Regions from separate parts of the Homo sapiens genome. Here region 2 is linked to region 1. Evidence: fine-mapped expression QTL. A gene starts in region 1. The other region holds a variant in brackets. All regions are shown on one strand. Distances are between the middles of the regions.

Region 1 (5,384 bases):
GGCCTCTCCAGCCATGTGGAACTGTGAGTCTATTAAACCTCTTTTTTCTTTATAAATTACTCAGTCTCGGGTGTGTCTTTATTAGCAGCATAAGAATGAACTAATACACCATCTCTATACAGAAGGATGAAGACTCTATCTCTATACATAATTATAACTACTTTTTAGAGTATTGTAGATCAAAAGATAATCAGTTACTATTCATTGACTTAAGAAAATCAGACATAATTTGATGTTTATATGTTTATAATGGATATTTGTCCACGAAATGGGATAAATATGAAATGAGACATTCAAAAATGAAATGTCTTATGAAATGTACACTCCTGCTGATGAACTCAAGCCTTTTCCCAGCTAGCTTCAGATGGGCATCTATTGCTTTGGACTGCACAACATCATCCCCTAGTGCCACTTTCCTCTAATACCAGGACCACTCATTCCCATGGGTACCCATTTCCATAGCTGTGGTGTGGTTTGATTGGAACTGCTGTTGCCAACCTTGCCTCACTCCAACCTCCCCACCCCCCACCCCAAGCTGTACAGAGGTAGGCACCTGGTCCAGCTAGGTAACAATATCCCTCCATCCATAGTGACTGCTTCTAGGCTGAGCCAGTCACAGCTCTTCCCATCAGGGGAGACCATTTCTGCAGGAGATGCTAGGCTAGGAGGGTGATATGGTTTGGCTCTGTGTCCCCACTCAAATCTCATGTTGAATTGTAATCCCTGATGTTGGAGGTGGGGCCTGGTGGGAGATGATTGGATCATGGGGGTGGTTTCTGATGGTTTAGTACCATCCCCCTAGTGCTATCTCATGACAGAGTTCTCCTGAGATCTGGTTGTTTGAAAGTGGGTAGCAACTTCCCCTCCACCTTCCTCCTGCTCTGGCCATGTGAAGACCATGCCTACTTTCCCTTCCCCTCCTGCCATGATTATAAGTTTCCTGAGGCCTCCCCATAAGCAGAAGCCGTATAGCTTGCAGAACCGTGAGCTAATTAAACCTCTTTTCTTTATAAATTACCCAGTCTCAGGTATGTCTTTATAGCAGTGTAAGACCAACTAATATATAGGTATTAGTTGGGTATAAGCAAGGGGCTGGTGGTGGTCACCTTTCCTGTCATGTGAAAGACTGCAGGTATAATTATGTGAGCACAGTCAAGAGACAAAGGGAGAGAGACAGCAGCAGTGATGGGGACAGAGTCTGAGCTCTTGGATTCAGCTGTTCCTGAAATCAGAGGCACACTGAACTTCCCAATCCCAAGAGGCAATAAGTTCCTTTTGTGTCCCCTTAGGCTAGTTCAGAAATTGGATTTCTGAATTTGCAGCTGGCAGAGCTCTAATTAATACAAAGACATGTTAAAAAAAAACAAAGGGATATTTTTTACTGTCTTTATAGTGCTATTTTGTGGTGTTCTGACTGTTGCACAGGTGCTTGTTATTGAAGAGATAGATACATGCTCTATATAAAAGACATTTACTGAGTGCTTACTATTGCTAGGCATTATTCTAAGTACTTCCCAAACAGTGAGTAAATTAATTCTCATAAAATCATTTGCAGTGGGTATTACTAGCAATGTTATACAGATGCAGAAACTGGGACAGTAAAACAGTAAAGAAACTTGTCCTAGGTCACAAAGCCCGCAAGTGGCAGAGCTGGGATTTGAACCTAGGCAGACTGGCTTGAGTCTGTGCTCGTAGCCACTATGCTAACACTTACAACTTGCTTTTGTCCTAGTTTTATATTTCATAATTACATCTAATAACAAAAGAGAACAAGGCACCATATACCTTCTCCGTTCCATGCCTTGAATGCTGGCCTCTAGCTGCTGTTCTTCCAAGGTGAGAAAGAGACCTAGTTATACTTTACAGAGAATTTGAGAATCATGGTCCTTTAGACTTGGGAACATTTTGGAAGAAACACTGTCCATAAGCCTCACCTAAATTGGCACAACTGAAAATGCCCATCTTTTCATAAGTCTATTGAACGATGTTATTCAACCAGTGATAAATTAACCCCAAAATACATAGGTGAACTGCAGTATATAACATAGAATAAATATATCTGAGAAAGTCAAATGTTGTGAGATGGGAAAGGGTACTCCTGCTGCTCAAGGATTAGAGTTGAAAGCAGGAAAATCTGCTGTGCTTAACTGGGTAAAGTCACAGCATTTACATTTCTTGTTGATAGCTAGTGAAGATTCTCCTTGAAGCTCAAGTTCTCGCTGCCCTCTGTCCCAGTCCCCTGTAGAATTGTCAAATCCCGCTTTTGCACTTACTTGATTACCTGCTGAAATCCTGAAATTGCCACAGCTGTTGCCATTTCAGCTCCTTGAATTTATGAGCACCAATGCATCTCCCTTGCATCTGCTTTGGCTGTTGCTTTTGAAAGGAGCGATCACACAAGGAGGGGTAGAGGAAGAGGCCCAGATAGTTCTGTGGCACTGAAGGCAGCTAAGAAAAGAAGGAACTCTTGACTTTGCGATTAGAATAGTAGCAACTGAGAACATTAAATGTGTTTATCTTTCTTCTGAGGAATGCCAAGTATTTTTTAAAAGAGAACCCTGACTCATCGTGCAGAAGCACAAGGACACACACTAAAAATAGTGGCGTGGTTTCTAACATCGAGATGCTCCGCAGCGGGTGACGAGAGGTTTGCTTCTAAATAGACAGGTAACCTACGGAGAGCATATGACGATCTTCTCTCTAAAGGAGTCTGTCAACTCTGTGGGATCTTCCTTTCAGATGACTGATGGGTACAGCAGGGTGGAGGTCGGGAAGGGGAGGCCAATGGATATGGAGGTGGTACTGTTTCCATAAGCATTTCTCTTCTTTCCTTAATGGAATCGACATACACTCTGGCTTCCGCAACGTCCTAGATTAAAGTGGCTTTAAGCCAAGGAGTAAGCCAGTCAGACACCCTTTACACATCCTCAGTTCTAGGTGGGCTCTGGTCTGGGACCAACTATTCTCCCTGATTGATCTGTGCCCTGCCACGGCCTCAGAGAAAGACTGATTCCTGCGTATTCACTAAGGACAGTAAGATGCTTCTGGACAGTCAGATATTTGGGACCTTGATATTCCCCACAGTTGAGTCCACTGGCTCTTTATGCACAGGTGACCAGCACTGACCGAAGCTTCTCAGAGTGAAACTGAGCATCTTTCCAGGTGCCTGCACCGCCAAAGCCGAGACCATCTCTCCATTTCCACACACAATGGCACCTTCAGAAAGCAGGGAGAGGATGTACCTCCCTGCCAAAATCAATCCTGGTCAACTCCAAGTGAGTCTATAAGCCGTACTAAAATAAAGCTGATTTAACAAATAATGGCTTAACACATGGAATCACTAAATGTTATGCTTTAATGTATTTGTAAGAAAATCTCACCATTTGATGTTAAAAGGAGGAACAAGATGAATTTTGACACGCATTTGTCAAATCTTGAGGAACATTAACTTTCTGAGCAGAGAAGACCTTTTTAGAGCCCCCAGATGGAAACTGGATAAAGTCCTTTAGACTTATGAAAAGCTACATGCTTGAACACAGCTCCTGCCCTGTGGTTTCAAATACAGGCTTAGGACTTCTGCCTCTGAATAGGCTGTCGGGCAGCAGACTGATGCTCTCACCAAAAATAACTAGAAAGGCCACATAAAATAAAATTAAATTTAAAACTCGGTTAAAAGACATAAGAGAACTGCTGATGCATAGGTGACTATCAAGGCCACAGTTTGAAGAGGGTAGAATCACAGAGGGGTGAGTTGTTGATCTGTTGATCTGCAACTTCTTTTATTCGGGGACATTTGCAGAGTTTAGATGTAGAGTAAGAATCCGCCACTGGAGCAGAGAAATCAGCAGAGCTCTAGATAGCCTTGGAGGGTTCAAAAGACAAAGTTGAAAATATACGAGGCCAAGATCCTGGTGAGAGGCAGAAAACTGACCCTGGTTTTCTCTTCAAGAGGTTAAGAGAGCAAAAGGCTAAAAGATTAACAGGGCAAAAGGCTAAGTGGAAAGACTGAAAAGAAAGTGAAGTTTTTGGCAGGGTCACCATGCTTAGGGAACAAGAATTACGGTTCAGGACTCACAAGGGGAAGGGCCCTGGTGAATAAACCAGGGTCTTGGCTGAGGCCTTAGGAGCCTAGATTTCACTCAGCTCAGTGAAAGTTGATTATCCCCTTCTCAGCTTGCCTAACAAAAGAAGGTGTACTCCCCTTTGGTGAAGAATAACATCTGGAGCCTCCATACTTTTCCTTTTAATGGATAATGCGCAGCGTTCAATCAAAACTTTTGGGGGTCCCAGCAGCATGCCTGGTAATGGCTGTGATGACAGTTTTCTAATATTTAATTTGATATTAAGTGCATATCTAATTCATAGAACTTGGGCTTCCTGGAAGCACGGTTGCCACAGGCAGTCTGGGAAACAGTGCCAAGGTGTGTGAGTCTGTGTCTGTGTGTATAACACTGGCTTTCATACAGGAGCTGCTCATTAAGGGATAAGCTGCAAGCCAATCATTTGTCAAAGATAATTCTCATTCGGTTTCATACCAAGGAGTGAGGAAGATTTTTTTTTAACTGTGAAAACCCCACAAAAACAAAAAGAACAACAAAAAAAGAACAAAGAAGCCGCCTCGCATCCTACAAATACAAGTCAGTATTCCTTCTGTGTTCTCTTGTAGCATGGTGCTTCATTTTACTTATCTGTATTCTTCCCAAGCTGCAAATTTACTAGGGCCACAGACTATATCTACCTCAGTCACACAAGTCTCCTCCAGTGGCTGGTGCAGTGCCTGGAGTACAATGGGGGCTTAATAAATATTTTTTATAGAATTAATGAAGGAAATAAATAAAAGCAAACTGAATGTCAAACTTACTTTGGGAAAACAGTCACAATACAGTTGTGATCTGCAGTTGGGTGCACAAAAGCCCAATGTGAACTATAGCAGAAAGTCTCTTATCTGATGTAGTTAGAAAGGTAGTTATTCAGGCCAGGGACAGTGGCTCACACCTGTAATCCCAGCACTCTGGGAGGCTAAGGTGAGGATCCCTTGGGACCAGCAGTTCAAGACCAGCCTGGGCAACATAGTGAGACCCCATCTCTAAAAAAAAAAAAAGTTAGCTGGGTATGGTGGTGTACACTCATAGACCAAAGTACTCAGGAGGCTGAGGTGGGAGGATCATGTAAGCTCAGGAGTTTGAGGCTGCAGTGAGCTAGGATCACGCCACTGTACTGTAGCCTGGGTAACAGAGGGAGCCCATGTCTCAAAAAACAAAACCAAAAAAATTTTTTTAAAAAAGGAAAGAAAGGTAGTTTTCAGTTCATTGAAAGTAATTTATAGCAGGGAACTTATAGAAAATATATACTTATTTTGCATTTTACCCTTCATACCTCATTTT
Region 2 (5,384 bases), 23 kb before region 1:
AACAGAGGTGGTTGAAAGACGCCATCTCTTCGGGTTCTTTGTGGCCTCTTCCTATAACTCGCCTGGAGAGTGGCTCTGATACTTTAAAATGACCTTGGTCATAACAATAATAGACCCAAGTGGAGTGCTGTCCTTCACTCTTTGCTAATTATGTCACGTTGTCCAGTTCAGGCTTAGCACATCATCTCCTAAACTTTGTCTAGTGGGGTAGGTTTTGATTCTTTTTTTGTTAATTATCTGACCTTGCATATGTCCAAGTTTTTCTACTGTGAAATGGGAATAAGTGTAACTGCCTAACCTAACCCCTGGATATATTGGGTGTAAACGTTTTATGCAATACCAGAGAATCATCATCATAATCATAGTAGAAACCAAGGTGCGGCTGTTCCTTCATTTTCAGGTTTCTAGAGTTTGGTGCTTTCAGGGGAATCAACACTGTACTACACTGGCCAGTATCCATGTACAGGAGGGCAATGGTTCTCACACTAAACTATGCCTGAGGACCAACTGGGGATCCTGTTAAAATACAGATTCTTGGGACCTGCCCCCAGAGATTTTAGTTCAATGATTTGGGATTGGGCTCAAGAAATTCATTCGTCCAGCAATTATGTGCAGACATTGTTAAAGGCACTAGGGTGATGGAAGTGAACGAAGAGACAAAAATCCTTTCGTGGTCTATCTGCATTTGTAACAGACCTCCAGGTGACGCTGAGGCCATTAGCTGTACTCTCCCAAGGGCCACACCTTGGCAGCAGCACATGTCAACTAGTGACAAGATCTACTCTCTGCTATGCCAATGGAAATTTCATCACATTTCCAAACTCTGATTCTCCTTCTTTTCCACTGGGACCTACTTTTTGGCCACAATCTTCAGGAATTAGTTTTTATATTCAGGAACAATGGTTCACTGGGGTCCTTCTCAGCAAGTTCATTTACTCCATTGCTTTTTTATTCCAGTATCATACGTTATTAGCACTGGGTTCCCGAAGGACCTCCTTAGCATCAGAGTCTTTAAGAAGGCTCAGGAAACATCACTTGTACCAGAGACTTTGGTAACAGGAATCATCAAGAAGATGTCTGGATTTGACTTTCAAGGATCAGAAGACAATTAACTTGATGAGTTCTAACCTAAACCACAAGCTTACCCTTAAGAAAAATTAGCCTTATACTGAACTTACTCCAAGTCATTTCATTTACATTTTCCTTTCTATACCGTTTTGAGTTGGGAAAAATTCACTTTTGTTAACGGCCCACACATCCTGTGGAATGAAGCCTTCATTCTAAAATGCAGTTGATTAATTTCACTAAGTCCTTTGATGCATCAATACTAAAGATGTGTGGGAAACTTAGCTGACCTGGACCAACAGAGCAAATGAAGTAGCTTCACAAGGGCATTGGCTGATTTTAAAAAAAAAAAAACACTTTTTACGTGCAATATCTACCTTAAAAAAGATGTATTAGTAAACAGAGCTGAATTATAAAAAATTCTTTTCACTCCAGCAAGCCTCAAGTACCCAAAGCTGACAACAGATGACTCAGTGAGTAAAATAAAGGCAGAACAAGGCAACAAGGACAAGTAAGACTTTAAGTGAGTAAAGGAAATGAAGAACTACAAAAATACCTAATAGATTTTAGGTTTATTGAAAAATGTATCTAGGGAGATTGCTTAAGTTATATTTCATGTAGTCCATATTTTGTTTATTTATGTCCTGCCTCCTTCCTAAAAAGGATTGGAAACTGCTCATTTATTCTCTGTATCTGGTGTGAGATAACATTTTAAAGAAAAGATTACTGTTTCATTCTTAATCTCCTTCCTCACAAGTTCTCCAACCATTAAAAAATTTCAAACAGGATAAGGAAACGACATACTTCTCTTATGATAAGTTTTCCCATATCCAGAAAAATCTGCCATTTTAATAACTATTTTTTATCAATCTTAGAGATCCTCCCAGCTCCAAAAAAACTGGGTCGGTATGTAAACATTATGTTTGTAGTTGATGGCAGTGAAATTGCACAACGAAGCGTCTTGCTTTATTTCTAATTTTAAAAGTATATGTGAAACTTTAAAAAAGAAGTCTCCAGTTTTTGAAAACAAGCTTCCTTTTCCATGTCCTTCTAGGCCTTGGCCTCGTGCATACACATTTTACATACATGCACCTCTTGTGTGCAATTGTTTCACTTAACATTGTATTATAGGCATTTTCCCCACATTGTTATGCATTTTAACTTTGAAAATTTAAATTGCCATTTTTAATGGCTACATAATTGTCCATAGAGTTGCTGTATCATTAGAATACAGGAAAAGGAAGGCAGATATTTGAGCAGATGGCCACGACACAGTTCAGGAAATGAGTCACATCACTGTTGTTTACAGTGTGCTGGAGCACTTCATATTCCAGGGAGAGAGGTCTGGCCCTGAAGAGTTGATTACTGTAAGGGCTTATTTATCTGAAACACATAAGATGGAAGCTGTCCTGGTCTCAAATTTGTTTTGAAGCCACTCTTTATTCATTTCCTGTATTAATATCCTTCAAGGGACAATATGTTCTGCAAAAAGCAGAGTGAACACCTGAAATGAAACAACTCATCCCTGCATTCTGCACAGTGGCTGGGCTGGTAGGTGTGAGGGCTAGGGGCCTCCCGATGCCCCAGTTCTCTCTCTCCCTCTCACACACACACGCCACCACCACCAGCACTTCAGTGGAGTTACAGTGTACAAGGCATATAGAATATGAGGCAGCAGCAGAGTGTAGTGGCCACGAGCATGTAGTCTGGAACCAGAACTTGACACTCGTGTTCTTGCATCTTAACCTTTAGCATCTGTAAAAATGAGGTAATAATAATCACTTAAAGTCTTACTTGTCCTTGTTGCTTTGTTCTACCTTTATTTTACTCGCTGAGTCATTTGTTGTCGGC[C/T]TTGGGCACTCGAGGTTTGCTGGAGTGAAATTGATTTTTTATAATTCAGCTGTTTACTAATAGATATTTTTAAAGGTAGATATTGCACATAAAAAGTGGTTTAAAAAAGAGGATAATAATATCCTCATCCTATGGAGTGAGGATAACGTTCACTCCATAGGGTTATGGTGGGGATTGAATAAGGTAATATCCATAAACATAAAGAATAGAATTTGGCACGTGGTAAGCGCCATGTCAGTGCTTATTACTATATTTTCTTGCCACTCACTTCTTTTTTTTTTTCTGAGACGGAGTCTCACCCTGTCACCCAGGCTGGAGTGCAGTGGCGTGATGTTAGCTCACTGCAACCTCCACCTCCCGGATTCAAGCGATTCTCCTGCCTCAGTCTCCCAAGTAGCTGGGACTACAGGCATGTGCCACCACGCTTGGCTAATTTTTGTATTTTTAGTAGAGATGGGGTTTCACCATGTTAGCCAGGCTGGTCTCGAACTCCTGACCTCAAGTGATCCACTCACCTCAGTCTCCCAAAGTGCTGGGATTACAGGCGTGAGAAACTGCACTTGGCCTCCACTCACTTTTAAGGACAGCAGAGCAGAGGTCCAACTGCCAGGACAATAACTGGGCATTATCACCCCTTTGATAATAGGAAAGAATACACTTCCCTGTAACATCCTGACCACTTCTATCTGTGTCCCATAGAGAGAAAAATGACACTTATTTTACAAAAATTTTAACCCAGGGACAATATGTGAGACCCTGTGTGTACATTTTAAGCCCACAACTAAAGAACCACTCCTGGAAGTTTAAGCCTTGGTTTCGACTTCAAGCACATAGTGTGAGTGATACTATTTAGTTAGTACAAGATTCTCTCACCACCATTACTGGCTACCATTTATTCATCACCTACCACCTGCCAGGACTCTCTCTTTCATATAAGTACATCTAGCCCTCACAACAACCTTATAAGGTAAGTATTATTATTATTATTATTCCCATTTTATATTTAAAAGATGTGGGAACTTGGGGCCAGAAAGATAAGGTGATTTGCCTAAAGCCAAGTGGACTCAGAATTAGAATTTAAATTTAGGTCTGGTTAACTCTCAAGTCTATTCTTTTCCCACTGCGCCCACTCCTGTTTACTGTCATCTTTGTACAAAGAGGACTTGAGCCTTGGGGGCTTGCACTGCTGATTAACTAAACTGGCTAATGCCTACAGCTGCTGTGCTGAACTGTTCAGTGCTTCCCACATGTGTCCTGGGCTCCATGCCAGCCCTACAAACCCCCCTGCCTCCCGACACCCACACCCGCTCTTCAGACTCAGCATCTATGCTCCTGACCCTGGCCTGGGTTGGATCCTCCACCCTGCTCATGAAAAGAGTAGTGTGAAATTGACATCGAGACAATCAGATAAAGCTGGCTGGTTCTGGTCCTACCTGTCAGCTACCTCCTCCTCTGTTCCCACATCTGGCGACCTTCTGTTTCACCTCAACTCCTCTGTCCACTCTTTACCCACTTCCTGCTGAGTAGGCGTTGAGGTTATACAGGAGGTGATGGAGACCCCTGTCTCTTTTCCCTTCCCCCCTACCTGGCACTGGGCACGAGAATCCCTGATTACACTCCTGGAAGTGAGGGGGCACACACCTCCCTTGGGATGGAGAAGAGTGAACTGAGAGAGGTGCAGAGGCCTCACTCACGCTGAGTTGCTTTGGAACATCAGGCAGAAGGGGCTCACACTCCAAACCCACACTGAGATCACAGCATCTTCGTGAACTGATTTTAGGAGTTCTATTGCCCCACACCTCCCTGGCCCCCAAAGATTCAGATGTTGCAACCCTATCTCCCCATACATCAGAATGTGACCTTATTTGGGAACAGGGCAGATGTAATTGGTTAAGACGAGGTCATAGTGGAGTGGCCTTTAATTCAATATGACTTGTGTCCTTATAAAAAAGGGCAAATGGGCCGGGCACGGTGGCTCATGCTTGTAATCCCAGCACTTGGGGAGGCCGAGATGGGCGGATCACAAGGTCAGGAGATCAAGACAATCCTGGCTAACACGGTGAAACCCCGTCTCTACTAAAAATACAAAAAATTAGCCGGGTGGGTGCCTGTAATCCCAGCCATTGGGAGACTGAGGCAGGAGAATGGTGTGAACCTGGGAAGCGGAGCTTGCAGTGGGTGGAGATCACTCCACTGCACTCCAGCCTGGACGACAGAGCAAGACTCGGTCTCAAAAAAAGAAAAAAAGAAAGGGCAAATGGACACAGACATGCTCACAGAATGCCTTCATGTGAAGATGAAATATCTGGATGATGCATCTACAAGCCAAGGGATATCTGATTGCCAGCAAGCCACCAGAAGCTAGGAGAGGACATGGGACAGATGCCTCCTCATGGCCCTCAGAAGGAGCCAACCCTGTTGACGCCTTGAGTTGAATTTCTGGCCTCCAGAACTGGGAGAGAATAGCT

Direction of the effects. Positions count from the first base shown, and alleles are read on the strand shown. Sizes are in standard deviations (SD) of each study's normalised expression.
For the expression in adrenal gland of the gene that starts at base 2,387 in region 1, allele C in region 2 goes with a higher level than allele T (small effect, 0.29 SD a copy in GTEx).

What was found. PIP is the estimated chance that this variant, and not a neighbour inherited with it, causes the effect.
Region 2: its variant is the best candidate, but not a certain one, in a credible set for the expression of LINC02284 in adrenal gland (GTEx, PIP 0.79).

Annotation. Positions count from the first base shown.
Region 1 is chr14:56,307,992-56,313,375 of GRCh38, reverse strand. It overlaps LINC02284 (long intergenic non-protein coding RNA 2284), which reads right to left and starts at 2,387. Exons shown (of 7, transcript NR_187174.1): 1 at 2,282-2,387.
Region 2 is chr14:56,330,812-56,336,195 of GRCh38, reverse strand. The region is part of intron 5 of LINC02284 (long intergenic non-protein coding RNA 2284); the gene reads right to left. Among named protein-coding and RNA genes, the nearest start is that of LINC02284, 23 kb to the right of the region's middle. The variant C/T (reference allele first, on the strand shown) is at 2,917.